2 linked regions of the Homo sapiens genome follow. The protein of the gene in region 1 purifies or fractionates together with the protein of each later gene. This does not show direct contact. Each region holds a gene or a part of one and is shown in the gene's direction. Other genes may lie near its edges.

Evidence for each region. Proteins that work in one complex are often made in the same cells at the same time.
Region 2: the proteins of ITPK1 (region 1) and DNAAF5 fractionate together in Homo sapiens (co-fractionation; one large-scale study listed by BioGRID). This does not show direct contact.

Annotation. Positions count from the first base shown.
Region 1 is NC_000014.9:92,937,926-92,941,425, reverse strand, and holds part of ITPK1 (inositol-tetrakisphosphate 1-kinase), read left to right. Parts: 3' UTR 1-2,899; coding exon of another isoform or gene 2,900-2,943; 3' UTR 2,944-3,500. UniProt on the Homo sapiens protein: Kinase that can phosphorylate various inositol polyphosphate such as Ins(3,4,5,6)P4 or Ins(1,3,4)P3. Phosphorylates Ins(3,4,5,6)P4 at position 1 to form Ins(1,3,4,5,6)P5.
Region 2 is NC_000007.14:729,607-733,331, forward strand, and holds part of DNAAF5 (dynein axonemal assembly factor 5), read left to right. Parts: intron 1-56; coding exon 57-241; intron 242-3,725. UniProt on the Homo sapiens protein: Cytoplasmic protein involved in the delivery of the dynein machinery to the motile cilium.

The DNA of each region.
Region 1 (3,500 bases):
TCTGATGTCATGATCTAAATGAGGGGTAGTGGGGGATGGAAGAGAGTACCAGGTGGTCCACCGTTGGGGAGTGGGGCCGTCCGCCTGCTCTCTACTGTGCAGACCTCCTAACTGAGTTTACACACGCTTGTGTTTGCAACACTAGGTCTGGATGGGAGGTGAGGGGTGTGCGTATGGCTGCCATGCCAGTGTCTGTGCACATCCCTGTCTGTTGGTCTCCATGGCCACTGTGGACCGGGACCCTTGGGGGAAGCCTGCCCATGTCGGGCTGTGGGAGGCTGATCGGTGCATGTGAGAGTGGCTTCCCTTCTGCCTGACTCCCCACTCCCTGACCTGCCCCTTCCTTGTTTTTCCTCCTACTGGTCTCCACCAAGGCTTTGTTAGCCCCCACCCTGCCTGGTGTGCAGCTAACCCCTCCCTCCCCACAGCCAGAGGAGGCCACAGACCCCTCAGGGGAGTTCCGCGCTGGGGTCTGGGCTGTGCTCCCTCACTAAAGGGAAGGAAAGGAAGCTGGGCGTCCTCTGGGCCCCCCAACACACGTCCCATTTAGCCCTGCACAGCGGTCTCCTTCCCCTAAGCCAGCACTGCTGCTCCCTGGAGCCCGGGAAGGAGGCTGCCTGGCTGGAGGCCCGAGCCGATGGCGCCTGTGCTGAGGATTTGTGCTGTGATTTGGGCAAATCATTCCAGGTCTTTGGGCCTCCACCCCCTTGTCTCTAGTGGACATTTGAGATCAGAGAGCACCACAGGGCTGGCTTTGTGCCCTAACCCCTGGGATGCAGCCTGCCTTTCCATAAAGTCACCTAGGTGAGGATAGGCGCGGGAGCCTCGGCATGACACCATGGAGATCGGGGCCCTCTTCCCAGTGGGTTCACTCCTTTTCACACCTGCTGGGTCCCTCCTCACCCAGCAGGCCTGGTCCACCTCTCATTGCAAGCCCCAAGCACTGAGCCAGCAGGTGCCAGGGAGCCACCCGCCCCCCATCGCTTCTGCACACCTCAGACTCACCCCATCACCTTGGCAGCAAAGCACTGGCTCTGCCGTCTGACCCCTGATCCAGGCAGCCCCCTCTGCAGAGAAAAGGGTTGGGGAGAAGCCTCTGCAGTCCTGGAAGATGTGGGGTGCTGGGTGAGAGGCATCAGCCCCCACAAGTATGTTTTTGTGTCTTAAGATAGCAGTTTACTTTGAAAAAGTGAAAAAGGCTTCCGGGCTGTCCTCTGCCCAGTGAGATGGAGGACGCTAGAGAAAGTGCTGAGTGTCCCGAGAGAGGCCCCCGAGCCAGTGCATGGAGGTCCTTCGGCCTGGCTCAGCTGGGCTGCAGGATGCCCACTTTGAGGAGGGAGGCACAGGGCTTGGGCGAGGGGCAGAGGCCATCAGAACTGCCCGGCTTTTTTGGAAACTGAGGACCCAACAACTAACCACGTTTACACGACTTGAGTTTTGAACCCCGATTAATGTCTGTACGTCACCTTTCCTAGTTCTGACCCTGAGCCCTGGGGAACAGGAAAGCGTGGCTGGCCTCTTGCACTGCTTTGTCTCCAAAATAAACTACTGAAATCAAACCGCATTTCACACGTGTTTACACATGTTGCTCAAGTTTGTTATGTCATACTCCCAGTCCTTAAAAGACGTTTAATAAAACAGCTTTACCTTTTAAAAATAAAATTTCAATCCCAGTCTGCCTCAGGTACGGGTGGGGGTGTGCAGCGTGACTCCTGGCTGTGTTCCTGTACCGTTTGTGGCCTCCGGGGTCTTGCGCGTCCAGGGCCCAGATACCGAGTAACTGCCATGTGGTGTCGTGGTGGCGTCCATAGGCCTCCGTGGTGGGGCGGGGGCGGGGCTGTGGGTGTGCAGGGCAGCTGCATTTTCCAAGAGTGGAGATGGAGGATGGAGATTTGCTTCGTAAAGGCCTGGGAGCTACATGGGAGGTAGGGAGGGGCCAGCCACACCCAGGGCTGGGGGGCCGGTGGACTCTGCCCAGTGAAGCCAGGGGAGTGTCAGCAATGAGGGGCCTGGACAGCGACGCGGGACCCGCACCTGGGAGCGGCAGAGATGGAGCCCAGCTCGCTAAACGTACCCTAAGGGTGCACGCTGACCATCTTTGATCCCTGGACAGTGTCCATAGAGTTGTCTCCCCTTCGGTCACATTGTCCCTGGCCTTGGAGTTTCTGCCTCAGGGAAAGACCCACTAAAACCACCCGGGCTCTGGCGGCCTCCTCTTCTCCAGAGCATGGTGGCGCTGCCTCCTGAGCAGAGTCACTGAGAGTGTCTGGGTCCAAGGAAGGGACCCACTTAGCAAAGGTTGTTGTGTGGTGCTGTGCAGGCACGGCGCCTGGAGTTGGCCCCGCCAGCATCGGGGTGGCTTGGGGCTCTGGTTCCTAAGCTTCTGCTTCTGAGTTGGTCAGCACGTTGGCTCTGCGCCCTGCAGTGCCTGTCTTGATGGTGGTCCCTGGATGTGCTGAAGGGCTCCAGGAGCAAGGGGCCAGACCACACTTTGGCTGAGTCCTTGGGTAGTTTCAGAGGGTCACCTGCACAGTCTGCATTGAGCACCCTGGGGCTGAGGCCGTGGGTCAAGTTCTGCCTGACAGTGCTTTGATTATATGGTGATGTGATTCTGCAAACATAACCCCCCAACTGAGTGCCAGCTGCTGGGTGTCCCCACCCCAAGAGCCAAGGGGAGGCCACCCTGGAACTGGTGCTTTGCCCTTGGTGTCATGGAGGTGTCTGGGTCCACACGTGGTGGGTGGGCTGGGCCTGCAGTCACCCAGCATGGCCGGCGGGATTGGACCCAGCTGCAACCTGGCAGGTTCCATGGGGCTTCCTGTGCCTGGGCCTGCCTGTGTCTCATGCCTGTCAATAAAGGAGAAAGCAACCTGGGAAAAACATTCCTCTCTGTACCCAGGGGACTGCCAAGTGTGCTTTATAGAAGGCTGGAAGACCGACTGAAGTAGGAAGCTGTCACATGTTTGAGCCAACTGAGCAAAGCAGCTGTTGCCTGCCAGACAGCCACCCCAAGACCAAGGGAGCCAGCCTGTCGTTTGTCCTTCTAGCCTGGAAGACCAGTTCTTGGCTCTTGGGCACTCACATTGGCCACTGGCCACAACTGCTGAATGGCTTCACTAATGTCCCTGGGGTCTGTATCTGCCCTCTCTTCTATTCCCTAGAAACTCTGGCCGGGCATGGCGGCTCACGCCTGTCATCCCAGCACTTAGGGAGGCTGAGGCAGGTGGATCACAAGGTCAAGAGATCGACACCATCCTGGCCAACATGGTGAAACCCCATCTCTACTAAAAATACAAAAATTAGCTGGACATGGTGGTGGGCGCCTGTAGTCCCAGCTACTTGGGAGGCTGAGGCAGGAGAATTGCTTGAACTCGGGAGGCGTAGGTTGCAGTGAGCCAAGATCGCACCACTGCACTCCAGCCTGGCAACAGAGCAAGACTCCTCAAAAAACAAACAAACAAACAAACAAACTCTGATCATTCACCCGGTGGGATCCCCGG
Region 2 (3,725 bases), on another chromosome or scaffold:
GCTGGGCGAGGCGTGTGGGAGCAGCTCTGGTAACTGGGGGCCTCCCTGTCCCTCAGACCACTTCCACATGCAGTCGGAGTCTCTGATCGGGCCCCTGATGCAGACCATCTCCCACCAGCACTGGAAGGTCCGTGTGGCCGCCATTGAAGCCACAGGCGCAGTGATCCATTTTGGCAACGGGAAGTCCGTGGACGACGTGCTTTCCCATTTTGCTCAGCGACTGTTTGATGACGTCCCGCAGGTAACTGGTGTTTCTCCTGGACAGTCTGTTCCTCTCTCCAACACAGGCGGGCTGACGTGCTGTTTTTAACTAACTCACTTGTTCTTTTTTCAGAGTGCTGTATGCACCAAATGTCCTTTCATTATTCCTAGTCACAGGACGTTCCTGTTCACATCTTGGAAAAACTAGAAGAGAGCTGAACTGTTTTAATGTTTGATGTTATGAATTCCAAGGATGTTAGAAAGGATGACTTGTGTAGTTATTGTCTCTTAGGCACAGTGTGCACTTCAGCAGTTGCAGAAGGTTCCTTAGTGCTCCCATCCATCAAGACGCACTTTCCCGAAAAGCCACCATGGTTGGTGGACCTGGACTGGGAGAAGAGTGGAGTCGGGGTTGGTTTGTTGGGGATAATTATGTCGTTGGGCTTTGGAACCCACCAAGAGACGGGCAGGCAGGCAGGCAGGAGTCCTACAGATGGGGCTGAGTGTTGGCTTTACTGCTGGCAGAATCTGGCCTGGAGGGCATGTCTTGGATCTGAGGCCCCAGTGACTTGCTAAAATGCTACACACTGTGGCCACCGGGGAAGCTGAGTGACCTCTGATCTTTCTGTCTCTGAGTTACCTGTCATCGTAGTCAGACATGTGATCTTTTGTGTCTGGCCTCTTCACTGTGCATGGTTCCAGGTTTCAGCCTTGAAGAGGTAGGTTTCCTGATGAGAAATGGCTTGAAGGTGGTGAGTTGAAGAGTCACTCGGGGTATTCTGGGGCCAGGATGGAAGCCCTGACTCGCTCCCTCGTCTGTGCTGCTGGGGTCCACCCGTAGGGCCGGCTCCAGGTGTGACATAGCACCTGCTCAGGACACCCCTGCTTTGCCTCCATGGCCAGGCTTCATTCTCCGGCTCTCTCCCTCCAGCAGCAGAGTGGCTGCCTAGGGGCTGTGCGCAGAGACACAGGGGGACCCTTTCCCACCAGGAGCCTTTGTTCACCCCCCTTGGTCTCATCAGGCCAGCGGAAGTTGAGTCACCATGTACGCTGGCCGGCCCCTCCTGGAGCTGGCGTGGGTTCGGCACCAGGCAGCACAGAGGGCCCCTGAGGACATCAGGCTCTGCCCAGTGGGGAGAAAGTGGGCAGAGTGCGGGGTCAGTGTCCATGCTGCCCGGCACTTGCAGCAGGCACTTCTGGCACTGGCTAAATATTTGGGCTGCGGAGGGCAGTTCAAGGGGCCAGGGCAAGAACAGAGCCCAGCAAGAAGTGCAGGCGGCCGGCTGGTTTTTCTCTCCCACCTTCCTTAAGCCTGAGGCAGAGCATGGCCCACAAGGAAAGTGGAGTCTGTGTCATGGGCCAAGTCTTACTCCTCAAAACAGTGTGATGACTCTGTATGGAGAGCTCTGTGTGAATACTGAAGCTCCATAGCTGATAGCTGTCGGTGTAAGCCTACTGTCACTGTCTAAAAATAACCATCACTGTCTAAAAATACCGTCACTGTCTAAAAATACCATCACTGTATCGATAGCTGTCTGTAAATACTGGAACTCTGTGGAGCACGCTCTGTAAATACTGGAACTCTATTGCTAGCTGTAAACGGTGTAACTCAGTATAACTATACCGTAACTCTAAAAATACCATAACTATGTGTCGACAGCTGCCTATAAATGCTATAACTGTATTGGTAGCTATGTATAAGCAGCCTACTCTGTATCAATAGCTGTCTGTTAGAAAGCTGACATCACATTGTTGATCTAAAGCAAGCTTGTCCAACCTGCGGCCCGTGGGCCACATGCAGCCCGGGACGGCTTTGAATGCTGCCCAACACCAATTCATAAACTTTCTTAAAATGTTACGAGATTGTTTTTGTGATTTTTTTTTTTCTTTTAGCTCGTCAGCTATCATTAGTGTTAGTGTTATTTTATGTGTGGCCCAAGACAATTCTTCCAGCATGGCCCGTTTCTTCCCAATGGGGTTTGCGTCCTATTAGAGACCCTGCACGGCCCTTCACGTGAGTTTCGTGTGGAGTCACGGTGCTGCCCCTTTTACTCTGATCAGCCCTGCGACCCCGTCCTGGAGCTCCATGTGGGCTCCTTGCAGACACCTCCACCCCCTCAACAACCCAGGGACTGGTGCCCTGGGACCCCATCCTCTCTGCACAGAAGGTCCTGACTGCCTTCTGACTCGTAGGAAACCTTCCAGCAGCCTGCTAGACTCGGCTTAAATCACTGAACTTCACTGGAAGGGCCTGGAAATAACTTCATCTCCTCCTTACAAGGCTCAGAGGCCTCAGAGCTCACTCAGGTAGCACAGCCAGGTGAGCCTCAGAGCAAGGTCAGGACACAGGCGGTCTAGCCGCCCTGGAGCCTTAGGCCCCGGGATGGTGTCTGAAGTTGTGGAAAGGGGGTGTCCCAGTGCGGCAGGGGCTAATGCATCTCCCCACGCTCACATGACTGCAGCTCCGAGCCCAGGACACTGACCACACCCAGAACCCCGGCGAGGCAGGCAGGACGGACGTATGGCCGTGCAGTTGTGAAGCAGGCCTTGAACAAACTGCCCTGTGCCGCCCTCAGGTGGGTGACTCATGGACTTCGCCCTGCAGGGGTGCCCTGGTTGTCGCCAGGCCTGCAGTCGGCAGCTGCTCAGCTTTGCTGCAGTTTTCCTGCTCGATGTGTGCTGCTGGTGAGGCCACCAGGCCTGTTCTTGTCAAGAGAGACCTTCCGGGAGCAACAGATGTTACAGGAGAGACTGGGGATGCATGGACAGCTTTTCAGAGATGAGTGTTTGTCACGTTCCTGCCAAGTACCTGTTTGCCATTTGTATGCCTTCTTTTGAGAAATGTCTATTCAGATCTGTCCATTTTTAAATCGCGTTATTAGATTTTTTTCTATTGAGTTTGAGCTCCTTATGGATTCTGGTTGTCAGTCCCTTGTCAGATGGGTATTTGTGCAGCTGTTTGCTCCCATCCTGTGGGTTGTCTCCTCACTATTGATTGTTTTATTTGCTGTGCAGAAGCTTTTTAACTTGATGTGATCCCATTTGCCCAGGCCATGTCCCAGAGAGTTTCCCCAATGTTTTCTTTTAGTGGTTTCATAGTTTGAGGTCTTAGATTGAGGTCTTTAATCTATTTTGATTTGATTTTTGTACATGGTGAGAGATAGGGGTCCAGTTTCATTTTTCTGCATATGGAGTTCCAGTTTTCCCAGCACCATTTATTGAAGAAACTGTCCTCTCCCCAAGATATGTCCTTGGCACCTTTGTCAAAATAAGTTCACTGTAAATGTATGGATTTAATTTCTGGCTTCTCTATTCTGTTCCATTGGTCTGTGTGTCTGTTTTTATGCCAGTGCCAAGCTGTTCTGGTCGCTGTAGCTCTGTAGTATAAATTGAAGTCAGGTAATGTGATCCCTCCAGTTTTTTGTTTGTTTTTGTCTTGTTTTGTTTTTTGCTCAGGATGGCTTTGGCTATTCAACGTCTTTCGAGGTTCCATATAAATTTAGGATTATTTTTTCTATTTCTGT